Linked DNA regions of Homo sapiens: all the other regions are linked to region 1. Evidence: fine-mapped expression QTL. A gene starts in region 1. Each other region holds a variant in brackets. All regions are shown on one strand. Distances are from middle to middle. Region 1 holds the start of HAGH (hydroxyacylglutathione hydrolase). Region 2 overlaps MAPK8IP3 (mitogen-activated protein kinase 8 interacting protein 3). Region 3 holds the start of MEIOB (meiosis specific with OB-fold). Region 4 overlaps NUBP2 (NUBP iron-sulfur cluster assembly factor 2, cytosolic).

Region 1 (7,208 bases):
TGTACTGCAGAAATGTGTCAGCTAACAAGGAAAAAGATGGTCACAATATACAGTGAAATAAGCAAGTTAAATAATTGTATGGTATAGCTGGGCACGGTGGCTCATGCCTGTAATCCCAGCACTTTGGGACGCCCAGGCGGGTGGATCACTTGAGGTCAGGAGTTCGAGACCAGCTTGACCAACATGGTGAAACCCTGTCTCTACTAAAAATACAAAATTAGCCGGGTGTGGTGGCGTATGCCTGTAATCTGAGCTACTTGGGAGGCTGAGGCAGGAGAATCACTTGAACCTGGGAGGCAGAGGTTGCAGTGAGCCGAGATTGTGCCACTGCACTCCAGCCTGGGCAAAAAGAGTTAAACGCCATCTCAAAAAGAAAAAAGAAAGAAAGAAAAAAAAGAAAATTGTATGGTATGAGCAAACTCTATTTAAAAAATTACAATTATATCCACAGACTTGGAAGAACTTGCAATAAATGCTTAACTTTGGCTGTCTCTGGGTAGATGAAATTTTTGGTGTTTTGTTCTAATTGCTAATCTCTATTTTCTGACTCTTCTGTAATTACATGCATTGCCAAGCAATGAAAAAATAATACTAAAAGTAGTTAAGATAGCATGATACTTAATAAAGAAATCCAATTATGGCACTTCCTCATACTATATTATAATTTAAGCATGGGGTTGCAGCATACCTAAGTGTCTGATTCTTCTTATGTATCTACTTACAAGATGCAGCCTGCATTGTGGTCAAAACTTCACGTTCTGGTCTTGGGGGAGCTGGGTTACATCTCGGCTCTGCCACTAAGCTGAGTGACTTTAGCCAGCCTTCGCAGCCTCTAGATCTGTCTTCATCTGAGTAATGGGGATGGTAGTGATCATACTAAGCTTATGGCTTGGTTGCTGGTTACATAACACGTGGAAATACAGAATAAACTGCTTGGCATGGTGCCTAACAGTACTGTGTTCAATACATGGGGACCGTTACTACTCAATCAGATGTCCTAGGCTTTCTTCAGGGGCCAGCAGATGATGTGAACGCGAACAGGAACCCCTGCCGAAGCCCAAAGGACTCCTCCAGGCATTGACAGCTATGCTGTGCATCTTGCCTGGATGTTTTTTCAGAGGAGGGTGCAGGCAAGAGCAAAAGCAGCAGTCCCAGGCTATTCAACTTCCACAAAGCCTCCTTATCTCCGGTTGGGAAGTACAGTTGCTGATTAACTGTGTTAACACAGCACAGTGCTCAGAAGGCCAAAGGTCAAAGACTAAGGTCTGAAGCCCCACAAGGAGGAAATATCCCTCCTCGTCATTACTGGGGGGAAAAAAATTACCCTTGTAAGCCACTTAGAAGGGAGCACCTTTATTTGGAAAACAGTAATTTCAAAATCATCTCCCGAACTCAGAATCGATGGGTCTGGGTAGATACCCTAAGTAAACAGGTGAAATCTTCATTACTTGTTCACTTATTAAGTAAAATTTTAAATTAACCGATTATGTACAGGAGTGTTTTTCACATTTCCTGATAAGAATCACTTGGAATGCCCTGTAAACACAGCTTCACTGGAGATTAATCCTATCAAATTGATTCAGCAAGTCCGAGATGGGCCAGTAATTTGTGGAGATTTTTATTTTTACAAATGCTTCCTGATGATGACCAAATCTAAGAAAATTTGGTAAACAACGGAAAGTTATCTGGAACATAACTTTCAGTTTTCTCTGCAGTTTTTAAGTGCTGAACTACTGATCATCCTAGAGATAACCCACTGAAAAGTCTTCTCTAATCCAGTTTTACAAAAGGAAAGTCTTTTTAACATTTGGTTTGATAAAATGTTTTCCGAAGAAATACTTTACTTGCCTGTTTTCATTTCTGGCCCACCCGTTCTACTTCACGTTTTCTTGAAGGGTTCATCTTCTATGAGTTGAGGCATAGCAATCTAATCATTTTTAAAATAAATGGTTTCTTTTTTTTTTTTTTTTTTTGAGACGGAGTCTCGCTGTTGCCCAGGAGTACAGTGGCGCAATCTCAGCTCACTGTAAGCTCCGCCTCCCGGGTTCAATTGATTCTCCTGCCTCAGCCTCCAGAGTAGCTGGGACTACAGGCGCCCGCCACCACGCCCGGCTAATTTTTTGTATTTTTAGTAGAGACGGGGTTTCACCCTGTTAGCCAAGATGGTCTGGATCTCCTGACGTCGTGAGCCGCCCGCCTCGGCCTCCCAAAGTGCTGCGATTACAGGCGTGAGCCACCGCGTCCGGCCAATAAATGGTTTCTAATTAAAGGATTGTGACATTTAATAGCCGTTGCTTGCTCTTGTCTTGCTCCCTTCTCTCTCGAAACTTGTTAAGAAATAACTCAATATTCTGGCTTTTCCACTTTAAATGTCATACTGACCAGCCCGTGTATGCCAGCCTCGATCTCATCGTTTTCTTTAACCGGTCCAACTCCCTTTGGCGTCCCAGTCAAGATAATATCTCCTTCTTCCAAGGTTATGATCTTAGAAACATAGCTGATGATGTAGGGGATGGAAAAAATCATGGAGGATGTCTCACCCTCCTGTCTGAGTTCGCCGTTGACCTTGAGCCAGAGCTTCAGCTTGTGAGGGTCAGGGATCTTCTCCTTGGGCACGAACGCGCTGACCGGGCAGGACGCCGTGAAGCTCTTCGCCAGAGTCCAGGGCAGCCCCTTCTTCTTGCACTCGTCCTGCACGTCCCGGGCGGTCATATCCAGGCACAGGGCATAGCCGCCCACGTAGTCCATGGCCGCAGCCTCGGGGACTGCGCGGCAGCGCTTGCCCATCACCACGCCCAGCTCCAGCTCGTGGTGCAGGTTGCGAGTGTACGCGGGCATGAGGATGGGCGAGCCCTCGGGCGCGTAGGCCGTGGACGGCTTCAGGAACAGCACGGGCTCGCTCAACACCGCGCTGCGCATCTCCCTGACGTGGTCCGCGTAGTTCCTCCCCACGCAGACGATGTTCTTTCCCCACTCCCAGAAGCGGGACAATGGCCTGGATGCTGCCATGATTCCCATCAAGTGCCCCTGTAGTCACGTGGGCTGGGCCGGTCAGCTGATGCCTACGGCATCCCGGAGAGGACCAACTGCCTCGGAACGCTGTCCCCCGCAGCGACGGCCCGTTCCACCTCGCGATCTGCCGGGTACCCGGGCGGCGTGGCGCTCGGCCTCCAGGGATCCACTGTGCGGTGCCAAAAAAGAGGCGGAGGCTCGCGGCACAGCTCTCCCGGCGCAGCTCTCGGGCCGCCGCCGCCGCTCCCAGGCCCGTCTCCCGGCCCGTGGCAGTCGGGGCTCGCGGACAAAACAAGTTGAGCGCGAGCGCGTTGATTGGTTGGCGGACGGTGCGAGGTGGACGCTGATTGGCTGAGGGCAGCGCGAGGCGGGCGCTGATTGGCTGCGACGCGCCGACGCCGGTGTTTTGCAGTCCTGGGCAGCTCGGCAGTCCAGCCCGGCCCGGGTCATGGTGGTGGGCCGAGGGCTGCTCGGCCGCCGCAGCCTCGCCGCGCTGGGAGCCGCCTGCGCCCGCCGAGGCCTCGGTGGGTGCGGCGGGGCGGTGCGGGCCGGGGGACGCGGGCCTGGCGGGGCGGGCAGCGGGCGGCGCCGGGCCGTCGTTTGGCGACCGCTGACGCGGTGTCTGTTGCGCAGGTGCCTAAGGCCGCGCTGCCGGGCTCGAGCGGAGGCGGCGCAGGCGCTGAGGCTGGCGCGGAGCGGGCGCGGGGCCGCGGGTGCGGAAAGCGCTAGGTAAGCAGGGCCAGGCCTGCGTCCGCCGCGGCCTCCACGCTCGGGCTGGGCCGGCCGCGCCCCTGACGCCTCCAGGGCATCGCGTCCTGCCCGGGCCGGCGCCGAGGAGAGCCTGGGGCGCGGCTCTGAGGCGCAGCGGGCAGGGCCCCGGGACGCCTGGCCCACCCCGCACCTGCTGCCCCGCTGCAAGGACCGCGGTCTCGCGGCGCCGCCTGCGGTGGTGGAGCTGCCCGCCCGGCGCCGGAGCCCCCGTCTGGGGACCCGGCGTGTCATTCGCCCGAGGTGGTCGCGCGGCCGGGCCAGGCCAGCGCCCCGGGCGGGTGCGCAGCGCAGGGCACTGGGCGGGCGGAGGCGCAGACAGGGAGGCGTCCCTGGCGGTTTCCAGATCTCGCCGAAAGCTGTCAAGGCTCTGCAGGGGGTAGAATGTCGCCATTGCTAAGGAAAGGACATGGATTTTGAGGTCCTCAGAATTACAGTTTTAGGGACATTCATAAGGGTCCAGGCAGAGAGTTCCAGCGGGACTGTGTGCATCGGCAGGGCGTGCGTACCCCATTCTAAGGGAGGCCCCAGCCCCCGTATTTGGTGCCGCCCAGTTCAAGGGAAGCAAGATGCTGTGAAACTTCCTGATTTAAAAAAGAAGTGCAGTGACGCACGCCTGTCATCCCAGCACTTTGGGAGGCCGAGGCGGGAGGATCGCTTGAGTCCAGGAGTTCCAGACCAGCCTGGCAACATGTTGAGACCTCATCGCTACAAAAACTAAACAAAATCAGCCGGGCGTGGTGGCACACAACTGTAGTCTCAGTCACTTTGGAGGCTGAGGTGGGAGGATCGCTTGAGTCCAGGAGGTCGAGGCTGCAGTGACCCTTGATCGCACCACTGCACTGTAGCCTAGGGGACAGAGTGAGACCATATCTCAATTTTTTTTTGTTTTTGGGGCCAAACCGAACATGTTTCTGGACTTGGTCCAGGCCCCAGGCTGCAGGTCCTTGACCTGTTTGTACAAAGTATTACAGTTACAAAACAGCAAGCCGGGAACATTTGCCAGGCAGTGCTGGGCTGAGTGATATGGAAAGGGAATACGGTTTCTGCTGGTGTTGGCACCAGCTGCGTCTTTCCTCAGAAATAAAGGCACCTCCCTGGGTTGTCAGCTTCTTCAGGAGGCTGTGATGGTCTCCAGGGGAGGCTGAGCACCAGTTGTAAATGACATTTTCTTCGCCTGGGCAGTGCAGTGGCCAATCTCGGCTCACTGCAACCTCTGCCTCCCGGGCTCAAGCGAGTCTCCTGCCTCAGCCTCCTGAGTAGCTGGGACTACAGGCGCTCGCCACCACGCCCAGCTAATTTTTGTATTTTTTAGTAGAGACAGGGTTTCACCATATTGGTCAGGCTGGTCTCGAACTCCTGACCCCGCGATCCGCCCGCCTCGGCCTCCCAAAGTGCTGGGATGACAGGCGTGAGCCACCGCACGTGGGCAGTATTTTTGTTTGTAATGTTCTGCTCCTTGTTTGTAATGGAGCTCCTTTCCAGGAGGACGCCCGGCACTCGGAATCCTGTCACAACCCTTCTGCACCCCACCTGCAGCCCCCAGCACCCACACTCTGCTTGTTGTGCTCCTTGGGCTGGGGTGGTGCTGAGGCTAAGGGGAAGGGGAATAACACAGGAAGCTGCTCATATAGAAATCTTGGTATTATTGTTCCTGAGGAGAATGATCTGGAAAATGCCCAGCTGGTTGTCAGGCGGGTAATAGGATATCTTTGTGCAGTGATTGAAACTATAGTTTGGGCAGTTTCCCCGGCTGTGGAAATAAGGTCGGATTCCGCATTTCGGTGGGCCCTGGAGACGCGTGTGTCTGTCAGTTGGTGGCTGCTGCCCATTTCTGGATCCCTTTTGGGAGAAGCCCCTGCCGTGGCACCTACCCCAGGACTGCACTGTCCTCTGCCACCTTCTGTGGTTTCTTCCCCGTGTAGAGCGGAACTGAAGGTATTGTCGGGGCCCCCAGGTATTTTTAGATTTAGTAGGAGTTTCATTGCTGAAAATATTTTTGCATTGGTCGACTGGGTGGCAGACACTTTTGTCCCTTGGTCACCCACTCCTCCCAGCTCTTGGGCCTTCTGGGCCCCTGTGGCAGAGTCCTTTGGGTCAGTTGGATGGTGGTTTTGTGTCCTCCACACTTGAATCTGGGGGCAGTTGTGGCCAACTTTCCGTCTCAAAGGAACTGCTGATTTTTGTGCATATCTCAGATTCGTGCTGTTCAAGAGCAAGTATTGTTTGTTTGTTTTTTTTTTTTTTTGAGACTGTCTCACTCTGTTGCCCAGGCTGGAGTGCAGTAGGGCGATCTTGGCTCACTGAAACTTTCACCTCCCGGATTCAAGCAATTCTCCTGCCTCAGCCTGCCGTCAAGTATTGGTTCTTTCTGGCTAGAGGCTGAGAAGGGCTGTAACTGCATGGAACGCAGGCTCGCTTAGTCAGTGGTGGCAGCACAGCTTGCTGGAGGGCAGATGGCCAGGCGGGGGCACCCCTAGTCTGTGTTCCCTTCTTCACATTCTGTCCCTGAGTCCGGGGTGTGAATAATCCAGCACTGGCAGTGGTTCGCCTCACAATCACAAGCTGGCCTTCCTGTCCTTTTAGAGTTCTCAAAAAAGAAAATAGAGATCGTAAGTCTGAAACAATTGATTTCCATGAATGTGAGCATGAGTTAGTTCCTGTGTTCTCCTCAGGGATATATGAAGATATTCCTTTTTTTTTTTTTTTTTTTTTTTTTTTTTAAGGAACAGGTTATTGTCTTGTCACCCAGGCTGGAGTGCAGTGGCACAGTCATAGCTCACTGCAGCCTCAAACTCCTGGGCTCAAGTGATCCTCCTGCCTCAGCCTCCGGAGTAGCTGGGACCACAGGCATGCACCACCATGCCTGGCTAATTTTTAAATTTGCAAAGACAAGGTCTTGGCTGGTCGCGGTGGCTCACACCTGTCATCCCAGCACTTTGGGAGGCCGAGGTGGGCGGATCACAAGGTCAGGAGATCGAGACCATCCTGGCTAACACCATGAAACCCGTCTCTACTAAAAAATACAAAAAATTAGCCGGGTATGGTGGCGGGCGTCTGTAGTCCCAGCTACTCAGGAGGCTGAGACAGGAGAACGGCGTGAACCTGGGAGGCGGAGCTTGCAGTGAGCCGAGATCGCGCCACTGCACTCCAGCCTGGGCGACAGAGCGAGACTCCGTCTCAAAAAAAAAAGAAAAAAAAAAAGACAAGGTCTTGCTATGTTGCCCAGGCTGGTCTCAAACTCCTGCCCTCAAGCAGTCCTCCCATCTCAGTCTCTTAAAGCGCTGGGATTCCCGGCAAGAACCACCATACCTGGCCAGAATATTCCTTTTCAAAGGAACCTAGAAAGGCTGGGAAGCACTGCAGCTTGCGCGTCCTGTCGTGGAGGGCCTGGCGCGGCTGCCCGCTGAGTTGTGCTCTGTGTCTGC
Region 2 (7,676 bases), 80 kb after region 1:
TTAATCTCCTTTGGATTTTTTATATATATTTTTGCAACACATGAGAAAAGTTCCACAGAAAATTCACAGCACCAAAGTGCGCCCTCACCGCCGTCCTGATCTCGGGGAGCATTCCATCTTTCACCACCAAGTACAGTGTGTCCAACACTACTGAACTGAACACTTCAACTCGGTTAACATGGTGAATATTATGTTACTCATACATGGCCTCTACTGGGGCACTTTCTGACTCAAGCCAGGATGAGACAGGCCTCCCTGTCAGGGTGAGGCCCTGCTGGTGCTCAGCACCCCACATTACTCTGCTCCCTGGAGGTCCCCCTGCCCCAGATAAGACAATCAGCTCAGGAGTACACCAGGAGGCAGCCTGGGATCCAGGAGCTTCTCACCCTGCGGGCTGGGGGAAGCAAGGCCATGGCGAAAGGCTCGGACCCTGACGCGTGCAAGGGGACAGACTGCGCTGTCCTACTGCCCGCCTGTCATGCCTGAAAGCCTGGGGCTCAGAGCCACATGGCCAGTGCTCAGCTGCCAGCAGATGCCATGAGCACAGGAGACTCCACGTGCTGACAGGAAGCAGGTCCTGATGTTTGCAGCCGCCACAGACCTAGGCACAGGGGTCCGGTGTAGACCTGTGGCGCTGAGGTGAAGCCAGGGCTGTCTGCGGAGGAGTGGGCAAGTGGGCACCCTCCCAACCTCCTCCAAAGTCAATGGTCCTAGGGTGTGCGGCGAGGCTAATGGGCACAGAGCAGAGAAGCGGGCACCCTCCCAACCTCCTGGAGAGTTGGCAGCCCTGAGGGTGTGTGCAGAAGATGGGGCGAGGCTAACAGGCATGGATTTCTTTTAGGGATGGCGGAACATTCTAAACTGAGATCATGGGGGTGGCTGCCCCACCTGTGAGTACGCTGTAACCCACCGCACCGTGCACTCGAAGCGGGTGAATTTTATGATACAGTCGACCCTCAATACCCACGAGTTCTGCATGTGTGGATTCAACCAGCCTCACAGAAAATGTACAGGCCTGTGGTGGCCGTGTCTGTACTGACGTGTACACTTTTTTCCTGTCATTATTCCCTAAACGACACAGCATAACAGCAACTACTTACACAGCATCTACAACATAACCTAGAGGTGATTTAGAGTACACGGGAGGGTGCAAACACTACACCACTTCAGAGCAGGGACTTGAGAAGCCTCAGATTTTGGCATCCTTGGGGCAGTCCAGAAACCAATCCCCTGTGGAGATGGAGGGACAATTCCATGTGAAACGCAACTCAACAAAGCTGGAAAAAAAAAGGTTCCTAGCTCACAGCTGACAGAGGACTTTCCTTTCATTACAAACAAAACCAACAGCAGAAAGCCCCAGCATTGTGCAGGCACAGCGGTGCGGGGGAAGGCTTGCGCTTACCTAGGAGGTCGGCCCCTTCGTCCACATCCCCGATGACCTCAGACCCTGCCGTCGACAGCTCATGGTACAGGGAGTCGGTGTTGATGCCGAAAGCTTTGTTCACGATGCCCTGGGTTGGGCTGTTGGGATCCACAGGTCGGGAGAGAGAGCAGAGTCAGTGGGCAGCCCGGAGTGGCTGCGTCTGCAGACTCTTCCAACACCTCCCACCGTGGCCATTCAATGCCCACACTGCCCTGCAGGCCGGTCGTGGATGGAGGCGGTAGGCCACAGCCTTGATGGTTCTCCCAGTGGTGGCAGAGGAAGACTTCACCAAAGACACCGACTTGGATAAATACTGAGCCCCCAGGACCCCAGGGCCTGGGCTGAGCCAGTACCTGCTTCCTGTGCGGTCCAGGCGGGTCTCTGGACACATGTCCAGCTCTGGCGTGGAGTCAATAATGTCTTGAACATCAGACCACTCGTCACTGCTGCCCATGCCTAGGGGAGAGCACAGGGGCACCTGGGGTCAGGAGAGGGTCTGGCAGCCTCTGCCCTGCTCACGGCTGCCCTCGGAACCTGAGTCTGGTGGGCTGGAGCTGGACCACCTGCTAGGTGGGGATGATCAGAAAACAGCTCTTCCCAGGCTGACTGGGCAGAGGTCGAACCCCAGCACAGTAGACGTCTGAGGCGGGGCCTGGAGCGGGGTGGGTTGCAGCAGCCTCTCTGCATGGGAGTGTCAGCAGTAAGCCCAGTCCCCAGAGATCCCACGTCCAAGCAAGCCAGTGGCTGGACCTCCTCTCGGCCCTCATTCCCCTCTTCTCTTTCCCTCACTGGCCTGTGTGCCGTGGGGCAACGCAGGTTACTGGTTAGTGGGGCTGTGTGCCATGGGGTGACGTAGGCTACTGGTTAGTGGGACTGTGTGCCGTGGGGCGATGCAGGTTACTGGTTAGTGGGGCTGTGTGCCGTGGGGCGATGCAGGTTACTGGTTAGTGGGGCTGTGTGCCGTGGGGCGATGCAGGTTACTGGTTAGTGGGGCTGTGTGCCGTGGGGTGACGCAGGCTACTGCCTTAGTTGTGTCTCCCCAAATCCATATGTTAATAGATACCCCCTAGCATGACTGTATTTGGAGGCTGGGCCTTTCAAGAGGTGATTATGGTAAAATGAGGTCACGTGGTGGCTCTAATCCAATGGGGCTATGTCCTTGTAGGAGCTGGAGATGAGGACACAGACACACCCAGGGGATGCCTGTTGAGGACACAGGGAGAAGGTGGTGTCTACAAGCCAAGGAGTGGCCGCAGGAGGAACCTACCCTGCCAGCGCCTTGATCTTGGACCCCAGCCTCCGGGCTGTGAGGAACACGTCTCTGCTGCCTGCACTGCCCGCCTGGTGCATTAGTTTCACATCTACCCAAACCAAGCCCTGCCTCCTGCCCGAGGGAGCCCAGAGTCCCGGAGGTGGGCACCCACCTATACTGACGTTGCGCATCTCCTGGGTGACCTGTACTTCCATGTTGCGGCTGTCGCGCTTCTCCCGGGCACGCTTGCTGTTCTTGGAGCCCACGCCATAGTCCCCCAGGGGCTGCAGGCTCTCGTTGAGGGGTGTGACGGCGGCCGAGGGCACGGAGGATGTGGGCGTGTTGGACTTGGTGCCTGTGGTGCTGGGTGTGGCGGCCGCCGAGGACTGGCCTGACTCGGACATTTCATCCTGTGGACACTAAGGCCAAACACAGGGAGGAGGGAGAGCGAGTCACTGCAGGTCCCTGGCCTGCGGCTCCGCCGTGGCTGCCTGAGGCCCCGCGCACCAATGCTTTGCACTTTGCCTCGCCCGACACCCTGCGGGCCAGAGCTCCTCTGCCGCCCACCGGGCTAACCCTTCCGGGCCTCACCACTCCCGAGTGGCTCTGCTTATCCGGCCACTGACTCCGGCTCCTCGGAAGCAGGGCCACCCTCCTGAAATGGCTTGGAACGGGGCTTTCCACTGGTGCCCTCCCCAGACGATTGCTTGTAATGGGCCAGTGCCTCGCCAGGGACACAGCGGCAGCCCCCTGTAGCTTGTGGCTGTTCAGAAACAAGTCCAGCCCAGGTAGGGCAGAGGGCTCTGACTGGGGACCCAAGAAGGGCTGGCTGTGCCGCCACCGCTGCCCCGTCACCATCACTGTGCTGAAGAGCTCGAGGCTGGGCCCACCCGCGCCTGCCCCACGTTCCTCCCCGGGCTCAGGTCAGGGCCAGGGAGTGACCAGAAGGTGCTGACCCTGTGGCTTGACTGGACCAGAGCTCACCCCTGAACATGAGCAAGCGCAAAGAAACCACAATCCCTGCTCACAGAAAGGGACGCCACCAAGACATTCTGGAGGGTGGGGGCAGCCCGGATTACGAGAAACCGCAACCAGCCGTCTACCTCAGGAAGCTCGCTAGGGAGGAGCGCATTCTATGTGACTAATGCGGAATG[C/T]GAAACAAACATTCTTTCCAATGGTCTTTCCTAACAAAGATACTGAACCAGCTGGAGAAAAAGAGCCCCAAACGTTCTCGTCTTAGCTGACCTGATCACCCGCTATGGCAGAGCTTGCCCGTGGCCCCCGGCCCTCCTTGAGGTGTGGGAAAGTGCAAGGCCTCAGAGGCACCCAGGTGGCTCCTGTGCCTGTCCCAGGCAGCCGCTGGGTGGGTTCCCGTGGTCTCTCAGAGGGCGCACCGTGGGGGACTCTAATGCTAAGGATCTCACCCAGGGAGGAGCTGTCGAGGGGGTATCCAGCCCTCTCCACAGCTGACTTATACTGGCCTTTAAGTGACCAGGGCAGACGGGACTTCCAGAAGTCATGGCCAGTGCTGACCTCTGCCTCTGCCCAGCCTCTCTGGTCACCGCCAGACTCAGGGCACGGGGCCTCTCAGTACCGGACACGGCCACTCACTCAGAGGACACATTTCTGCTTCATCTACCAGGCTCCTAAGTTTCTCTAGAAGGAATCTCAAAATGACACACCTTCCTCTATAGTAGCTATTCTCAGTTGGGCTGACTGCCCCGAGGGGATGCTTGCAAAGTCCAGAGACATTTTTGTGGTCACAAATGAAGGGGGTGCTCCTGGCTTTCGTGGGTGGAAGCCAGGGATGCTGCTCCACACCCACCGCGTCCCAGCGGCCCAGGCCATGCATGTCCAGCCCCAAAAGATGAGCAGTGCCGAGGGAGAGCCCTCACACGGGCGCAGCCCGCCTCCCGGAGTGGCTTTGTAGAAATGTCTGAGACGGCCTGTGGCTCTGCAGCTATGCCCAGTTTGAAAGGAAAACCCTTGCTCTTCATGTCACTCCCCACGCTGGAGGAAGCGAGTACCGCTCATGCAAGAAGTCTGTGCTGACGTTCTCAAAGAACCTGTCTACCCAATGTGTCACAGGCACCTGGTGTCTCACCGACTCTGCCACCACCCGGCAGAGAGAAAACAGGGAACCCCATGTGGCCAGGCAGGGTGTAGCTGTGCACATCAGACAAACGCTTCTGGGCCACCTTCCTCCACGCTGGGTCCCCGGCCTGCTCCTGACCCTCATGGTGGCTGCGGGGAATTCTGCAGTCTGATTGCGCCTCCCCTAGCTCTCCGTCACCCTACAGGGCCACCACTTACCCATGGGACACTCCCCCTGGCCACAACTTACCTAAAGGCAAACCTCTCAACCTCCTAAACATCAACGTGTAGCAGTGACCTCCAAATGCACTGAAAGAACCCAAACTCTTAGCGGTCATTCCTCACCATGAGTAGCCACAACTGTTTGGTTAAAACACTGAAAATACAGTACATAAAAACAAAAACAAAACAAAACAAAAAACAACAAAAAAATTAAGAAATTAGAAAAACTTCAAAACCTAGAGCATAAAATAAAAAGAACTTAAATGTAATAATTTAAAATAAAGAAAAATCAAATAAAACACTCCTATGAACGAAAACATAAAACGCTACAATTTATGAAGAGAGCGACGATGTCAGACAACGCAGGAGGTGAAAGGAAAGACATCATGAGAAGAAGAGCGGGCCCAGAGCGGGCGCGAGAGGCAGCCCGGAGGCCAGAGAGCGTCAAGCAAGGGCTCCCCCCGGCTGAGGCTGACGTGTCTTCAGATGCCTATGGGCAGGTCCCAGCTCCAGGCCCGGGAAGCGTGAGCCAGAGACAGTGAGAGGAGGTGGGCCCAGGTGGCAGGGCTGGGCCCAGAAGGCCCGGGGAGCCCGCAGCCCCGCCACCCTCTCTCCAGCCCTGAGCACAGGGAGGACAGGAGAGCGTTCCAGATGCCATGAGGGAGCTCGCTCCCAGAGCAGCGCAGCAGCAGGTGGGCTGACGGAGCAGGAGCCTGCAGCAGCCCCCACAGGCACGATGGACACTTAGAGGTGGAAGGACAGTCGGCAAAGCATGCAGCAGGAAGTAAGCTTCTGGAGAAGTCCCAGGCCCCACATCCACCAGCCCAACCCAGCCCACAGGCCCCAAGGGCTCTGCCTCTGTGGACATCCTCTGACGGCCCCTGTGGGAAATCCACCAGACCCGGGGTCACCTCTTCTTCCCAGGAAGGTGGCTGTCCTTACCTGGCACTGAGGCCAGTGAGCTCACAGGCCAAAACTGGCAGCAAGCGACCTGGGGCCCTGAAGGAGTGGCCTGGCTCTGGGCCCCTGTGCTCTGAGGTGCACTCACCGGCTGGCTGTGAGAACCTGCTGGGGCCCCCGCACTCTGGCTGTGAGTACCTGCTGGGGCGAGGCTCTGCTTTCTCAAACTCAGGACCCAGGAGGCGTTACCAGGGACAGGCAGGGAGGGGCCCAGAGAAGAGGAGCTTTCTCCTCACCTTTCTGCCAACGGAGGGCAAACCCCACACTCTAGACACTGACGTTCCTCCGAGAGTAGAGGCGTGGCTCTCAGGGGCAGGATGTGTCTGGCTGGAGCCCGGGTGAGCATGAGGCTTTATGTGGGGGTGTGGTTTGAGAGAGGATCACTAAGCTCAACCCTGACAGGCACTGTACACCCCTGGCTACAGAGCGGTCTATCCAAGGGCAGGGAGGTCTAGCCTGGACTAGCAGGTGCCGACACGAGGCCGCGTGGAACAGCCACAGCCACACAGGGCCTGCTGGGCAGCCTGAGCCCCTGACACCCTGGCTGGGTTTCTCCATCCTGCCACACACGAAGGGAGAGGGCGAGTGGCCCAGAGAGCCGTGAAGGGCTGCCTGCAGACGAGGCTCCCGCCCCAGTGAACGGGGAACACCAGCAACAGGGAGGAGCCTCTCACTCCACGGCACGGCTACAAAACCTGGTAGCTGGAGCTGGACTGCAGCTGGCCGAGGTCACTCAGGTGCCAGTGGTCCCCCGCAGGCACGAGCTTGCCCCCGATCTGTGCACGTACCGTGCCGTCAGCCAGGGGGAACACGTTCAGGGAGGTGGGGCGCTCCTTCCTGCTGAAATGGGGGGCGAGAGGAGAGGAAGCGATGGTTAGAGGGTGGCCGTGAAGATTTCCCAAGCCCTCCCAGGGCAAGCAGACCTCGAGTGATGGGGCCGCTCCATGCCAGCCAGCAGCCCAGCTCGAGCAGCTACTCAGTTATGATCCTACGTGGCGCTTCCCCTCCCATGATGCTGCAGTTTCTCATTTTTATTAAGTTCAATTTTATTTTATTTTATTTTATTTTATTTTTTTTGAGGCGGAGTCTCGCTCTGTCACCCAGGCTGGAGTGCAGTGGCACGAACTTGGCTCACTGCAAGTTCCACCTCCCAGGTTCACGCCATTCTCCTGCCTCAGCCTCCCACGCCTGGCTAATTTTTTTTTGTATTTTTAGTAGAGACGGGGTTTCACCGTGTTAGCCAGGATGGTCTCGATCTCCTGACCTGATGATCCGCCTGCCTCGGCCTCCCACAGTGCTGGGATTACAGGCGTGAGCCACCGCGCCCGGCCTAAGTTCAATTTTAAACAGACACAAGCCGGGTGTGCTTTAGACACCCCACAGCAGAGCCAGCCACGGGACTTGGCATCACGGTCAGCGCTGCACGGCCACCATGAGCAATGCCTTTTAGGACCATTGTCTTATGTGTGCCCAGCCCTGCCTCCCTGTGGTGTTACTGCCAGCCCTGCCTGTTCCCCTGGCGCCAGCAGAGGGAATCCAGCCTTCCTGCCCCTGTGCCTTGTTCCTTGGCCCCTCCTGCCCATCCTCATTACTCCTGTTCATGAGGCTGCCTCACTGCAAAATATCTGAACACGACACATCCAGAGTAAGGACTGACCCCGTCTCATCTGCTGCAGCCGGAGCCTGAGCCTGAGGGGCGTCTTCTCCCTCCCCACGTGTCCTCTC
Region 3 (7,676 bases), 43 kb before region 1:
AAAACTTGGTTCTACAGTGGTATTTTTCTTTTATAATATGTGTGTGTTATATGCACCAAAGTTGTTCTTCTCTTTTTAAAGAGAAACTTAAATAATGCTACATGTGGACAGTAGTAGGTGACAAATTTAATGGACTTAGTTTTTGGATCTTACTTGCCCTGGGTTGGTACTCTGTTAACAAAAATTAGTATAAGTCATTAAACTAAAAAGATTTCTAAATGGAAGTAATTAAAAACATGAAGAGCTGAGAAAATTTTTGTCAGATTCACCTAAGTCCAATCCTTAGCACATCTAATTATATATATATTTTTCATACATAGATATACACATCTAGGGTTTTTTCTTTCTTTTTCTTTTTTCTTTTCTTTTGAGACGGAGTCTCGCTCTGTCACCCAGGCTGGAGTGCAGTGGCGCGGTCTCAGCTCACTGCCAGCTCCGCCTCCCGGGTTCACGCCATTCTCCTGCCTCAGCCTCCGGAGTAGCTGCGACTACAGGCACCCGCCACCACGCCCGGCTAATTTTTTGTATTTTTAGTAGAGATGGGGTTTCATCTTGTTAGTCAGGATGGTCTCCATCTCCTGACCTCGTGATCCGCCCGCCTCGGCCTCCCAAAGTGCTGGGATTACAGGCGTGAGCCACCGCGCCCAGCCCATCTATGGGTATTTTCTTGATGTACTACATGCCAAATCTATCATTAGATGTAGATATATTAATTAATTAATTAATTAATTAATTTTGTAGAGACAGGGTCTTACTCTTGCCCAGGCTGGAGTGCAGTAGCGCCATCATAGCTCACCACAGCCTTGAACTCCTGGGCTCAAGCGATTCTCCCCCCTCAGCTTCCCCAGTAGCTGGGACTACAGGCATGCATCGTCGTGCCTGGCTCATTTTTTCTTTTTTTTTTTTTTTGGAGACAGAGTCTCACTCTGTTGCCCAGGCTGGAGTGCAGTAGTACAGTCTCGGCTCACTGCAACCTTCCTCTCCTGGGTTCAAGCGACCTCTCCCGGGTTCAAGCGATTTTCATACCTCAGCCTCCTGAGTAGCTGGGACTACTCGGGTGGGCGGGCGGCGCCACAAGACAACCAGGCACTCACCACCACGCCTGGCTAATTTCTTTCGTATTTTTAGTAAAGACGGGGTTTCACCATGTTGGCCAGGCTGGTCTTGAACTCCTGAGCTCAGGTGATCCGCCCGTCTCTGCCTCCCAAAGTGCTGGGATTACACGCGTGAGCCACCGCGCCCGCCCTTCATAATATTATAGATAGAGAGATATGTTTATTTTTTTCCGGCGCACCGTCTTTTGGAATCCAGCGACCACAGAGCCACACGCGGCTGTGAGAGCGCACGGAGACCCCTCCCCGCGCCTGCGGCTGTCTTGTCCCTCTAACTCCCAAGAAGGAGGAAACGGGAACCGGGCTCCCCTCCCCTCCCCCGAGGGCTGAGTCTGAGCGCGTTGGGGGCGGAGCCAGTGAGCGGTGGGGGCGGAGCCAGTGAGCGGTGGGGGCGGAGTCAGTGAGCGGTGGGGGCGGAGTCGCTGAGGACGGGGCGGGGCCTCGCGCTAACGGTCGCGCGGCCGTCGCACCTGCACGAGGCTGTGGCCCGAGCGTCCTGTGGAGAAGCCGCGAAGCGCGGGCGACCCGGGGGTCGGGCGGGCCAGGTCCGCGAGGCCGCGGCGGCAGCTGTGCAGGCCCGGGGAGCAGCCGGCCGGGCGAGCCTCGGGTAAGCAGCGGCGTGGACGGCCAGGTGGCGACGCGGGCCAGGCCTCCAGCTGTGGGGCGGCGTCCGAGGAAGGGAGCCCGCGCGGGTCAGGGCCCGGCTCCTCCTCCCTGGTTCAAGGATTCCCCTGCCTCAGCCTCCCGAGTAGCAGGGATTAGAGGCGTGCGCCACCATACCTGGCTAATTTTTTTTGTATTTTTAGTATAGACGGGGTTTCACCATGTTGGCCAAGCTGGTCTCAAATTCCTGACCTCGCGATCTGCCCACCTCAGGTGCAACCCCATCTCTACAAAAAATACAAAAATTAGCCAGGTGTGGTAGCAGGCTTCTGTAATCCCAGCTACTGTGGAGGCTGAACCAGGAGACTCGCTAGAACCCGGGAGGTGGAGGTTGCAGTGAACCAAGATCGCACCATTGCACTCCGGTCTGGGCAACAGAGCAAGACTCTGTCAAAAAAAAAAAAAAAAAAAAAAAAAGGGCCGGGCGCGGTGGCTCAAGCCTGTAATCCCAGCACTTTGGGAGGCCGAGGCGGGTGGATCACGAGGTCAGGAGATCGAGACCATCCTGGCTAACACGGTGAAACCCCGTCTCTACTAAAAATACAAAAAATTAGCCAGGCGTGGCGGCGAGTGCCTGTAGTCCCAGCTACTCGGGAGGCTGAGGCAGGAGAATGGCGTGAACCCGGGAGGCGGAGCTTGTAGTGAGCCGAGATTGCGCCACTGCGCTCCAGCCTGGGCGACAGAGCAAGACTCTGTCTCAAAAAACAAAACAAAACAAAATTGTAGGGTAAAAGAGACAGTAGTTGTTGAATGAAGTCATCTCTGAATTCTCAGATTGAGCTCTTTAGTTCATGTTAATTTTGTATCTGTTAAAGTGACCAGGTAGAGAAGCAAGTCATATTTTTTGTGGGCAGACACTAACGTCTATTACCATATACCTCTAACGGTAGCAGACAAATAAGGGAATTCAGAGAGATAATAGGATACCATGTCCCACCAAGAGATGCTAAGGGGTAAAAATGTGGAGAAATCCCTTGGTGTGTAGGTAGTTGTGTTTGTACAGAATATTCAGCCACTGAGTCAAATGTCTGACTCATCCTCTCGACTCACATGTCTGGCACTTTGGGCTGTAAATAAATATTAGTTGAATGGTTGAATGAGTGAATGAATTTGTCACAGTTCGGCAAGTGTTTTAGATAGTGACACTGCATTGTGAGCCACATCAGACCAGGCCAAAGAACGAATGAAAAACTTGACACAGCTTAATTCCCAAATGTTTCTTCTGGCACTGAAAGGCCTTGAATACAAAAACTGGTACATTGGATAATATTGACAAGCAGGGCCATCATTGACTGTGAGCCTGTGAACATCGAGGCATCTTGTATACACTGTTTCTACTTTTCACTGCCAGGTGGATGTTATCCACAATTTAAGGATGAGGAAATTAATGTTTAGTAATGTTAAAACACACGACTACAAACTAGTGGTGTTGCAATTCAAAATCATATTTGACTAACTCCACAGGCTGCCTGAAATTCAGGTGTCATGAGACACGTCCTTGAACTGGAGCGGGTGGGTGTGGGCATTCCCAGAGTTAAAGAGGCCCTGGATTATAAAGTGAAGTCAATCTGTTTGGTGTAGCTTACAATTTTTCTACAATAGAACCTTTTAGAGTGATGATGTTGAGGGACAAACCACCATTTCGTTCATCTGATATTTATGGTTTTCAGTTATGAAATACATACATAAAAATACGTAAGATGCCACCTCTGCCCTCATGTAGTTTTACTATGTAGAGGTGTGTTTAAAATCAATAATTTTCCCGGGCTGGGCTCAGTGGCTCACGCCTGTAATCCCAGCACTTTGGGAGGCTGATGCGGGTGGATCATCAGGTCAGGAGATCGAGACCATCCTGGCTAACACAGTGAAACCCCATCTCTACTAAAAATACAAAAAAATTAGCTGGGTGAGGTGACACATGCCTGTAGTCCCAGCTACTCGGGAGGCTGAGGCAGGAGAATCGCTTGAACCTGGGAGGTAGAGGTTGCAGTGAGCTGAGATCGTGCCACTGCACTCCATCCTGGGCGACAGAGCGAGACTCCGTCTCAAAAAAAAAAAAATCACTACCTTTCCCTTCACACAGTATAATCAAATGCTCAATATGAGGTGTTTACGTAGATTTTTGCTGTATTTTTTGAGGTAAGCTTGATGCTAATATATATTTAAATCCTTAAATGTCCCACTGAGGCCGGGC[G/A]TGGTGGCTCATGCCTGTAATCCCAGCACTTTGGGAGGCCGAGGTGGGCGGATCACGAGGTCAGGAGATGGAGACCATCCTGGCTAACACGGTGAAACCCCGTCTCTACTAAAAATGCAAAAACAAAATTAGCCAGGCGTGGTGGCAGGTGCCTGTAATCCCAGCTACTCGGGAGGCTGAGGTGGGAGAATGGCGTGAACCCAGGAGGTGGAGCTTGCAGTGAGCTGAGATTGCACCACTGCACTCCAGCCTAGGCAACAGAGTGAAACTCCATCTCAAAAAAAAAATGTCCTATTGAATCATCTTGCATGTAAAACTCTAAATTTGGCTGGGCTTGGTGGCTCACGCCTGTAATCCAGCACTTTGGGGGCGGCCGGATCACTTGAGATCAGGAGTTCAAGACCAGCCTGGCCAACATGGTGAAACCTCGTCTCTACTAAAAATACAAAAATTGGCTGGGCATGGTGGCAGGCGCCTGTAATCCCAGCTATTTGGGAGGCTGAGGCAGAAGAATCGCTTGAGCCTGGGAGGCGGATGTTGTGGTGAACTGAGATTGTGCCACTGCACTCCACCCTGGGGCACAGAGTGAGACTGATGTCTCAAAAAAAGAAAAAAAGTTAAAACAAAATTAAAAAATAAAATAAAACTAAATTTACATGGTGCTCAAAAACTACTAAATTTTACATGGTTTTAGAAATGAAAGTTAAAAATTGAAACCTATAATAGCTATATCATTCAAAATTATAAAAGGACATTCTGAACATGTTTTTTATAGGTTTAATCGATATTAATTTACATTTTACCATTATAATAAAAATTTTCCAAAGCAGTAAACTATCCAGTGCTTTCCTAAATAATATTTTATTTTATTTTATTTATTTATTCTTTGAGATGGAGTGTCGCTCTGTCATCCAGGCTGGAGTGCAGTGGTGCCATCTCAGCTCACTGCAAGCTCCGCCTCCCGGGTTCACGCCATTCTCCTGCCTCAGCCTCCCGAGTAGCTGGGCCTACAGGTGCCTGCCACCAAGCCCAGCTAATTTTTTGTATTTTTAGTAGAGACGGGGTTTCAGCATGTTAGCCGGGATGGTCTCGATCTCCTGACCCTGTGATCCGCCCTCCTCGGCCTCCAAAAGTGCTGGGATAATAGGCATGAGCCACCGCACCTGGCCAATAATATTTTATTTTATTTTATTTTATTTTGTTTTATTTATTTTTGAGACAGAGTCTCGCTCTGTTGCCCAGGCTGGAGTGCAGTAGTGCGATCTCGGCTCAGTGCAACCTCTGCCTCCCAGGTTCAAGCACTTCTTCCTGCCTCAGCCTCCTGAGTAGCTGGGATTACTGGTGCCCGCTACCACGTGAGGTTTCGCCATGATGGCCAGGCTGGTCTTGAACTCCTGACCTCAGGTGATCCATCCACTTCAGCCTCCCAAAGTGCTGGGATTACAGGTATGAGCCACCATGTCCGGCCCTAAATAAGATTTTAAACTCTTGGAATTTTTTAAATGATTTATTTCATTTATTCAATTTATATATCTAAATTATATTTTCTAAAATGCAGATTAAAAAAATGGCAAACTCCTTTGCAGCGAGGATTTTCACTACCCTTTCAGATCTGCAGACAAATATGGCTAATCTGGTAGGTTTCAATAATGTGGTGATTTGCTTACTGATGACATTTTATGTGATAACATTACATCAATGTTATTGATTCATTCAACACATGCTTTTATAATTGGCAAGTATATAGATACTCATTGCATTGGTATAATTGTTAGATATTAAGTATACCTAAATTTCTTTGTATTTATGCCACCTAGATGAAAATTAATCTTTGTGTGTAGAGTAGAAGATATGATTGTAGATTTGACTAGTAATTGTTCAAAATGATCAATAGATGTATTATTTTACTTAATATTTTATAAAGTGAAAAATTTAATAAATGCTCAAATTTAGCATTGTAAAATTAAACCAGGCCAGGCACAGTGGCTCATGTCTGTAATCCCAGCACTTTGGGAGGCTGAGGCAGCTGGATCACCTGAGGTTGGGAGTTTGAGACCAGCCTGATCAACATGGAGAAACCCCATCTCTACTAAAAATACAAAATTAGCTGGGTGTGGTGGCTCATGCCTGTAATCCCAGGTACTCAGGAGGCTGAGGCAGGAGAATCGCTTGAAGCCAGAAGGCGGTCTCAGTGAGCCGAGATCGCACCATTGCACTCCAGCCTGGGCAACAAGAGCAAAACTCTTCTGAAAAAAAAAAAAAAAAAAAAAAAAAAAAAAATTAAACCATTTTGTTCAGCAGTAGCAATTTTCTGACCAAATTATCCAATTTATGGTCTAAGTACTTGACATTATGCTGCTTTTATGATATAGGTTTATAACATGTGTGTTTTCTACAATGATGATGTGAAAATTGACTCTTTGAGTAGGAGTTATAGGGGAATTCAATGATTTTGAACACATCTCGACTGTTACTTACTTAAAAGAAAACTAAGTGGAATCATCTTATAAGTTAAAGAACTTATTGTAAAGCAGCTACCACACACCCTTACCTTCCCTGCCCCTGAGCACTCTGCTATTTATATTTTGCTTTTGCAAACTAGATTTCTTACAATGGGATACATTTACATATAACTTTAATAATTTAAAATTTTAAAATATTAAAAAATAACAATTGTTGTTATAGTTTTTCTTGAAAGGTAAACTATTTGCTAATAATGGTCTCTTCAGATAGAAAGTTTTACTCAACATTTCCATTAATTGGATTTTCCAACAAAATTCAGTGAGATCTGCAAGTATAAGGAATTGAAGAAATAATATCAATGTGTCTAAATAAGCAATAAAGCTAGCTAATAGCTCAGCTAGAATGTAGGAGTCTTAAAAGCCTGATTGTAATTTAAATGTCAAGATTATTGTAAGGTTAAAATCAGTTGCTGCAATTAGCAAAATAAGTTTAGTTTTTTTCCTTTCAGAAAAGGTATTCATTTTTATTTTTTATTATTTTTTTTTTATTTTTATTTTTTGCGATGGAGTCCTGCTCTGTTGCCCAGGCTGAAGTGCAATAGTGGGATCTAAGCTCACTGCAACCTGTGCCTCTGGGTTCAAGCGATTCTCCTGCCTCAGCCTCGCGAGTAGCTGGGATTACAGGCACCCACCACCACACCTGGCTAATTTTTTGTATTTTTAGTAGAGATGGAGTTTCACCATGTTGGTCAGACTGGTCTCAAACTCATGACCTCAGGTGACCCACCCGCCTCAGCCTCCCAGAGTGCTGGGATTACACGTGTGAGCCAACACACCCGGCCCATTTTTATTTCTTAAAACACATTTAAAATTTTTCTTCAGTAGTCACTAAAGAGAACATTAAACATTTTGAGGAGATGTTAATATCTCTAAGTTTTAAGATCTAGGACTTTAGAATTTAGATTTATTAGCAGCAAAATATAAGTTTTGTTACAGTCTAATTTATATTACTGTCCAGCATGTTTGGATTAAGAAGCTAAGTGATTTTATGTGGATTGTTAGAAAACCCTATATAAAGGAAAGCTTTGAAGACTGTGGCAAATTAAATTGCATTATACATGTGCTTTGGATGAATTCAGTAAGGATTGATAGCATAGGGCAGTTATTATGCTCCATCTGGTGATTGAAAATAAAGTAGAAATATGCTAAGTATTAAATGATTATATTTGTAATAGTAGTTAACTT
Region 4 (5,000 bases), 36 kb after region 1:
CCAGTCTGTGACCCTGAGCCCGCTGGGGAGAGGCCGGGGTAGCCCCCAAGGAAGCTCTGGGGGGCTCAGCTCTGGGGGTCTGCGGGGGACTCTGGGGAGCCCACAGTCGGAAATGCGGCTGCTGGGGTTGGCAGGGGGACACAGCTGTGCCTGGCACCAGGGGTCTCTGTCCCGTCCTCCACCCTAAGGGCGCTGGCGGCGGCACAGGGGAGGAGGGCCAGGTGCAGGCCGGACCCTTCAGCTCCCAGCACAGCGGCGGGAAGTGCCCCGCACGGCCCGCGTTGTGGGCCCGGCCCAGGCAGGAGACGTTGGCTCACACCCCATTGTCTCTGTGGGGTGACCCCTTGCAGCTTCGGCCACCCCCAAGCCTGAGCTGAGCTCCAGAGCTGGCTCAGGCCACTCCCAACCCATCGTGACAGAAGGGCAGTCGGGGGGGCCCCACCTCGCCCCTGCCACCATCCCAGCAATTCCACACTCTCTGAGGATGGGGGGGCCATACAGTAGAGGTTTTGGGTCATCGCTGCTTGGGAGCCTGCTGGCTGGGTCTGTGGGGCCTGTGGCCCCTTGTCCTGAAAGGCAATGTGAGCTTTGGTGGCCGACGGTCCAGGGTTCCTACCTGTCCCCCGACGGCGGTGCCCCGGTCCCCTCCCGCAGCACCCGACCAAGGCCTGGATGCAGGCAGGTGAGACCCCGCTGGGGGGCCTAACTGGGGCAGGAGGTGCCCAGCTCCCTGTCCAGCCTCTGAGGGCAGTGAGCGAGTGCCCACCAAGACCTGCTGCAGAATATTCTGAAAATGGCCGGACCTTGGCCAATGGCTCAGTTCCCTCCCCTTCCTCTAGGCCAACGTGGCAGACTGGCCTGGCTCAAGCGCCTGCCTTGGGGGTGCGGCTGCCACATGGCCAGACAGCCCGAGACCCAGCCTGGCCGAGCCCACGTGGCCTGCGCACAGCTGGAGAGCCAAGCCCTGAGCGTCTGTGCAGCGGGGCGGGGCGGCCACTCCTCTGTCCCATGGGGTGGGAAGCGCAGTGTCAGCTTTTGAGCCGGAGGACCTGTGGGGCTCACCGGCTTCTTCGCATCTCAGCGGGTGACCTCGAGCCTCAGTTCACACCTGAGCGCCGCTTCCGGCTGTGCTGGTATCAGGCTCACTCGGGCAGAGCCCTCCTCGGGCCGCCTCCCCAAGCCTCTCCCCCCGCAGGAGGCCTGGCCCTGGCGCTGCTGCTGCTGTCCTGGGTGGCACTGGGCCCCCGCAGCCTGGAGGGAGCAGACCCCGGAACGCCGGGGGAAGCCGAGGGCCCAGCGTGCCCGGCCGCCTGTGTCTGCAGCTACGATGACGACGCGGATGAGCTCAGCGTCTTCTGCAGCTCCAGGAACCTCACGCGCCTGCCTGATGGAGTCCCGGGCGGCACCCAAGCCCTGTGGCTGGACGGCAACAACCTCTCGTCCGTCCCCCCGGCAGCCTTCCAGAACCTCTCCAGCCTGGGCTTCCTCAACCTGCAGGGCGGCCAGCTGGGCAGCCTGGAGCCACAGGCGCTGCTGGGCCTAGAGAACCTGTGCCACCTGCACCTGGAGCGGAACCAGCTGCGCAGCCTGGCACTCGGCACGTTTGCACACACGCCCGCGCTGGCCTCGCTCGGCCTCAGCAACAACCGTCTGAGCAGGCTGGAGGACGGGCTCTTCGAGGGCCTCGGCAGCCTCTGGGACCTCAACCTCGGCTGGAATAGCCTGGCGGTGCTCCCCGATGCGGCGTTCCGCGGCCTGGGCAGCCTGCGCGAGCTGGTGCTGGCGGGCAACAGGCTGGCCTACCTGCAGCCCGCGCTCTTCAGCGGCCTGGCCGAGCTCCGGGAGCTGGACCTGAGCAGGAACGCGCTGCGGGCCATCAAGGCAAACGTGTTCGTGCAGCTGCCCCGGCTCCAGAAACTCTACCTGGACCGCAACCTCATCGCTGCCGTGGCCCCGGGCGCCTTCCTGGGCCTGAAGGCGCTGCGATGGCTGGACCTGTCCCACAACCGCGTGGCTGGCCTCCTGGAGGACACGTTCCCCGGTCTGCTGGGCCTGCGTGTGCTGCGGCTGTCCCACAACGCCATCGCCAGCCTGCGGCCCCGCACCTTCAAGGACCTGCACTTCCTGGAGGAGCTGCAGCTGGGCCACAACCGCATCCGGCAGCTGGCTGAGCGCAGCTTTGAGGGCCTGGGGCAGCTTGAGGTGCTCACGCTAGACCACAACCAGCTCCAGGAGGTCAAGGCGGGCGCTTTCCTCGGCCTCACCAACGTGGCGGTCATGAACCTCTCTGGGAACTGTCTCCGGAACCTTCCGGAGCAGGTGTTCCGGGGCCTGGGCAAGCTGCACAGCCTGCACCTGGAGGGCAGCTGCCTGGGACGCATCCGCCCGCACACCTTCACCGGCCTCTCGGGGCTCCGCCGACTCTTCCTCAAGGACAACGGCCTCGTGGGCATTGAGGAGCAGAGCCTGTGGGGGCTGGCGGAGCTGCTGGAGCTCGACCTGACCTCCAACCAGCTCACGCACCTGCCCCACCGCCTCTTCCAGGGCCTGGGCAAGCTGGAGTACCTGCTGCTCTCCCGCAACCGCCTGGCAGAGCTGCCGGCGGACGCCCTGGGCCCCCTGCAGCGGGCCTTCTGGCTGGACGTCTCGCACAACCGCCTGGAGGCATTGCCCAACAGCCTCTTGGCACCACTGGGGCGGCTGCGCTACCTCAGCCTCAGGAACAACTCACTGCGGACCTTCACGCCGCAGCCCCCGGGCCTGGAGCGCCTGTGGCTGGAGGGTAACCCCTGGGACTGTGGCTGCCCTCTCAAGGCGCTG[C/T]GGGACTTCGCCCTGCAGAACCCCAGTGCTGTGCCCCGCTTCGTCCAGGCCATCTGTGAGGGGGACGATTGCCAGCCGCCCGCGTACACCTACAACAACATCACCTGTGCCAGCCCGCCCGAGGTCGTGGGGCTCGACCTGCGGGACCTCAGCGAGGCCCACTTTGCTCCCTGCTGACCAGGTCCCCGGACTCAAGCCCCGGACTCAGGCCCCCACCTGGCTCACCTTGTGCTGGGGACAGGTCCTCAGTGTCCTCAGGGGCCTGCCCAGTGCACTTGCTGGAAGACGCAAGGGCCTGATGGGGTGGAAGGCATGGCGGCCCCCCCAGCTGTCATCAATTAAAGGCAAAGGCAATCGAATCTAACAGGCACAGTGGGTGACTGCGAACGTGAAACCAGGGAGGGGGCTGGGGGCTCGGCGCGCAGCTGTGGTCTCAGAGCTTTGGGAGGCCGAGGCGGGCGGATCGCTTGAGCCCAGGAGTTTGAGAGACCGTCCTGGGCAACACAAGAGAGACCCCGTCTCTACAAAAAATAAAAAAAATTAGCATAGCATGGTGGCCCATGCCTGTGGTCCTAGGGAGGCCGAGGCAGGAGGACTACTGGAGCCTGGGAGGTAGAGGCTGCCGTGAGCCAAGACTGCACCACTGCACTCCAGCCTGGGCGGCAGAGCAACACCCTGTCTCAAAAAAACCCACCTGGCTCAGGGGAGGGGAGGATGGTGTTGCCTGGGTACGCCTTGGTCTCCTCACCTCTCTCCTCCCCGGCTTGGCCACGCCCAGGGCCCCCGCCTGGATCCTGCCCCGCCACCGCCCTGGCCAACTGCCCCACACCCATGTGTCTTCCTGGTCCCCGTGGCTGCCCCTCGGGCTCCCCAGAACATCCTCCAGGAATGATGGCACCAACTCGAATCCCCAGGGGCTCTGCGTCTCACCCCTCCTCTTTGAGGGATCGCCCTGAGGACCAGGCAGTGTCCCCGAGGGGTGTGGTCCAGGCAGCCAGGGCGCGGCTGAGGTGGGGTGAGGAGGGAGCGCGGGGCGGGCCGTCCGCCTTGCGTGGGAAGCCGCACCCCCTGCAGATGCCGTGGGCGTTTGTCTCTGCCCCCCCCAGGCACCGGCATCGTCAGCCCAGGTGCTCCTGGTGCCCTCTCACCCACCCAGAGGCCGCCCGGGTTGGTTCCGGGCCCCCACCTCCAGGGTCCTCCCCTGCTGAAGGCTGAGCTCTTCCTTTGGGAAAAATGGCGCGTTCTGCTTTCTGGAAGGGCTTTCCTTTCGGGTCTCACTGGGAAGAGGTGCAGGGGACCCCTGGGATTGGAGCTCCCTTCTCAACCTGACTTCTGGTCTCTGTCCCGGGAGGGGCCCCTTTAGTGTCCCAGGGAGGCCATTCTTCCACGGCGAAGGGGCCAGCTGTCAGGTTTATCACAAAATCTCCCCGAATTCCCACCAAATAAGATGCAAACACATCAGCACCTGGGCCCAGGGGCTTGTTGACAACGGAACGAACGAACCTGCCGGCCTGGCCCAGTCCAGCCCAGAAACTTACAGAAGCAGGTGCTGTCTGACCCCGAAGGACAGAAGACTCTAGAAACATCAGATCTGTCGCCACAGCAGCGGACACGTTTAATGGCAGGCGCCTCTACAGTTACAAAACATGCCTGAGGTCAGTTCGCCCCCTTAGGGGGCACTCCCCGAGCTAAACACAGATGACAGCGACCCAGGGTGCTGGAGGCCCGGGGTCACCTGAGGACTGCAGAAGTCCCGCGCTCCGCTAACTGTGTGGACACGCGGCTGCCAGGGGCACAGGTAGGCAACATGGATGGGAAGAGAGCCCAGGCCGCCCCCGTCTCACAGCTGCAGAGCACGCAGACCACGGCACTGCAGGCCAACCAGGCAGAGCTGCTGGTGCGACACATCCTGGGGCTGGGCTGGTCGGGGAGAAGCTCTCCGGCTGACGCTGCCTGGGCCTGCCCCTGCAGGGCCCGGGAACCGAGCCCAGGCCTCTGTTTCTCTGAGAGGCTGGAGCAGAGCCCTTGGTGGCCCTGGAAAGCGGCTGCAAGGTGGCCTTAGTCAGGGGAGGCACGCGGGCGTCGCGTCCAGAATCTTCTGGGCTATGGAGGTGAGTGCAGCGAAGGCGGGGCTCCCAGGGAACTCCTGGATGAAGTCGTGGCCCTCCTCCAGGGTCCTC

Evidence for each region. PIP is the estimated chance that this variant, and not a neighbour inherited with it, causes the effect. A credible set is the group of variants that fine-mapping cannot tell apart.
Region 2: its variant is the best candidate, but not a certain one, in a credible set for the expression of HAGH in whole blood (INTERVAL, PIP 0.74).
Region 3: its variant is the best candidate, but not a certain one, in a credible set for the expression of HAGH in whole blood (TOPMed, PIP 0.58).
Region 4: its variant is the best candidate, but not a certain one, in a credible set for the expression of HAGH in whole blood (TOPMed, PIP 0.65).

Annotation. Positions count from the first base shown.
Region 1 is chr16:1,823,040-1,830,247 of GRCh38, reverse strand. HAGH (hydroxyacylglutathione hydrolase) reads left to right here and starts at 3,423. Exons shown (of 9, transcript NM_005326.6): 1 at 3,423-3,536. The coding sequence starts at 3,461. It overlaps FAHD1 (fumarylacetoacetate hydrolase domain containing 1), which reads right to left and starts at 3,042. Exons shown (of 1, transcript NM_031208.4): 1 at 1,338-3,042. The coding sequence starts at 3,009. The coding sequence ends at 2,344. RefSeq lists enhancers at 2,823-3,012, 6,277-6,346 and a silencer at 3,103-4,072.
Region 2 is chr16:1,742,447-1,750,122 of GRCh38, reverse strand. MAPK8IP3 (mitogen-activated protein kinase 8 interacting protein 3) reads right to left here. Exons shown (of 32, transcript NM_001318852.2): 5 at 6,647-6,791; 6 at 2,848-3,094; 7 at 1,777-1,879; 8 at 1,403-1,521. Among named protein-coding and RNA genes, the nearest start is that of MIR3177, 11 kb to the right of the region's middle. The variant C/T (reference allele first, on the strand shown) is at 3,830.
Region 3 is chr16:1,866,036-1,873,711 of GRCh38, reverse strand. MEIOB (meiosis specific with OB-fold) reads left to right here and starts at 1,548. Exons shown (of 14, transcript NM_001163560.3): 1 at 1,548-1,719; 2 at 5,528-5,605. The coding sequence starts at 5,537. The variant G/A (reference allele first, on the strand shown) is at 3,970.
Region 4 is chr16:1,788,597-1,793,596 of GRCh38, reverse strand. NUBP2 (NUBP iron-sulfur cluster assembly factor 2, cytosolic) reads right to left here. Exons shown (of 7, transcript NM_012225.4): 7 at 4,411-5,000. The coding sequence ends at 4,883. It overlaps IGFALS (insulin like growth factor binding protein acid labile subunit), which reads left to right. Exons shown (of 2, transcript NM_004970.3): 2 at 1,196-3,184. The coding sequence ends at 2,997. Among named protein-coding and RNA genes, the nearest start is that of IGFALS, 2.6 kb to the left of the region's middle. The variant C/T (reference allele first, on the strand shown) is at 2,821.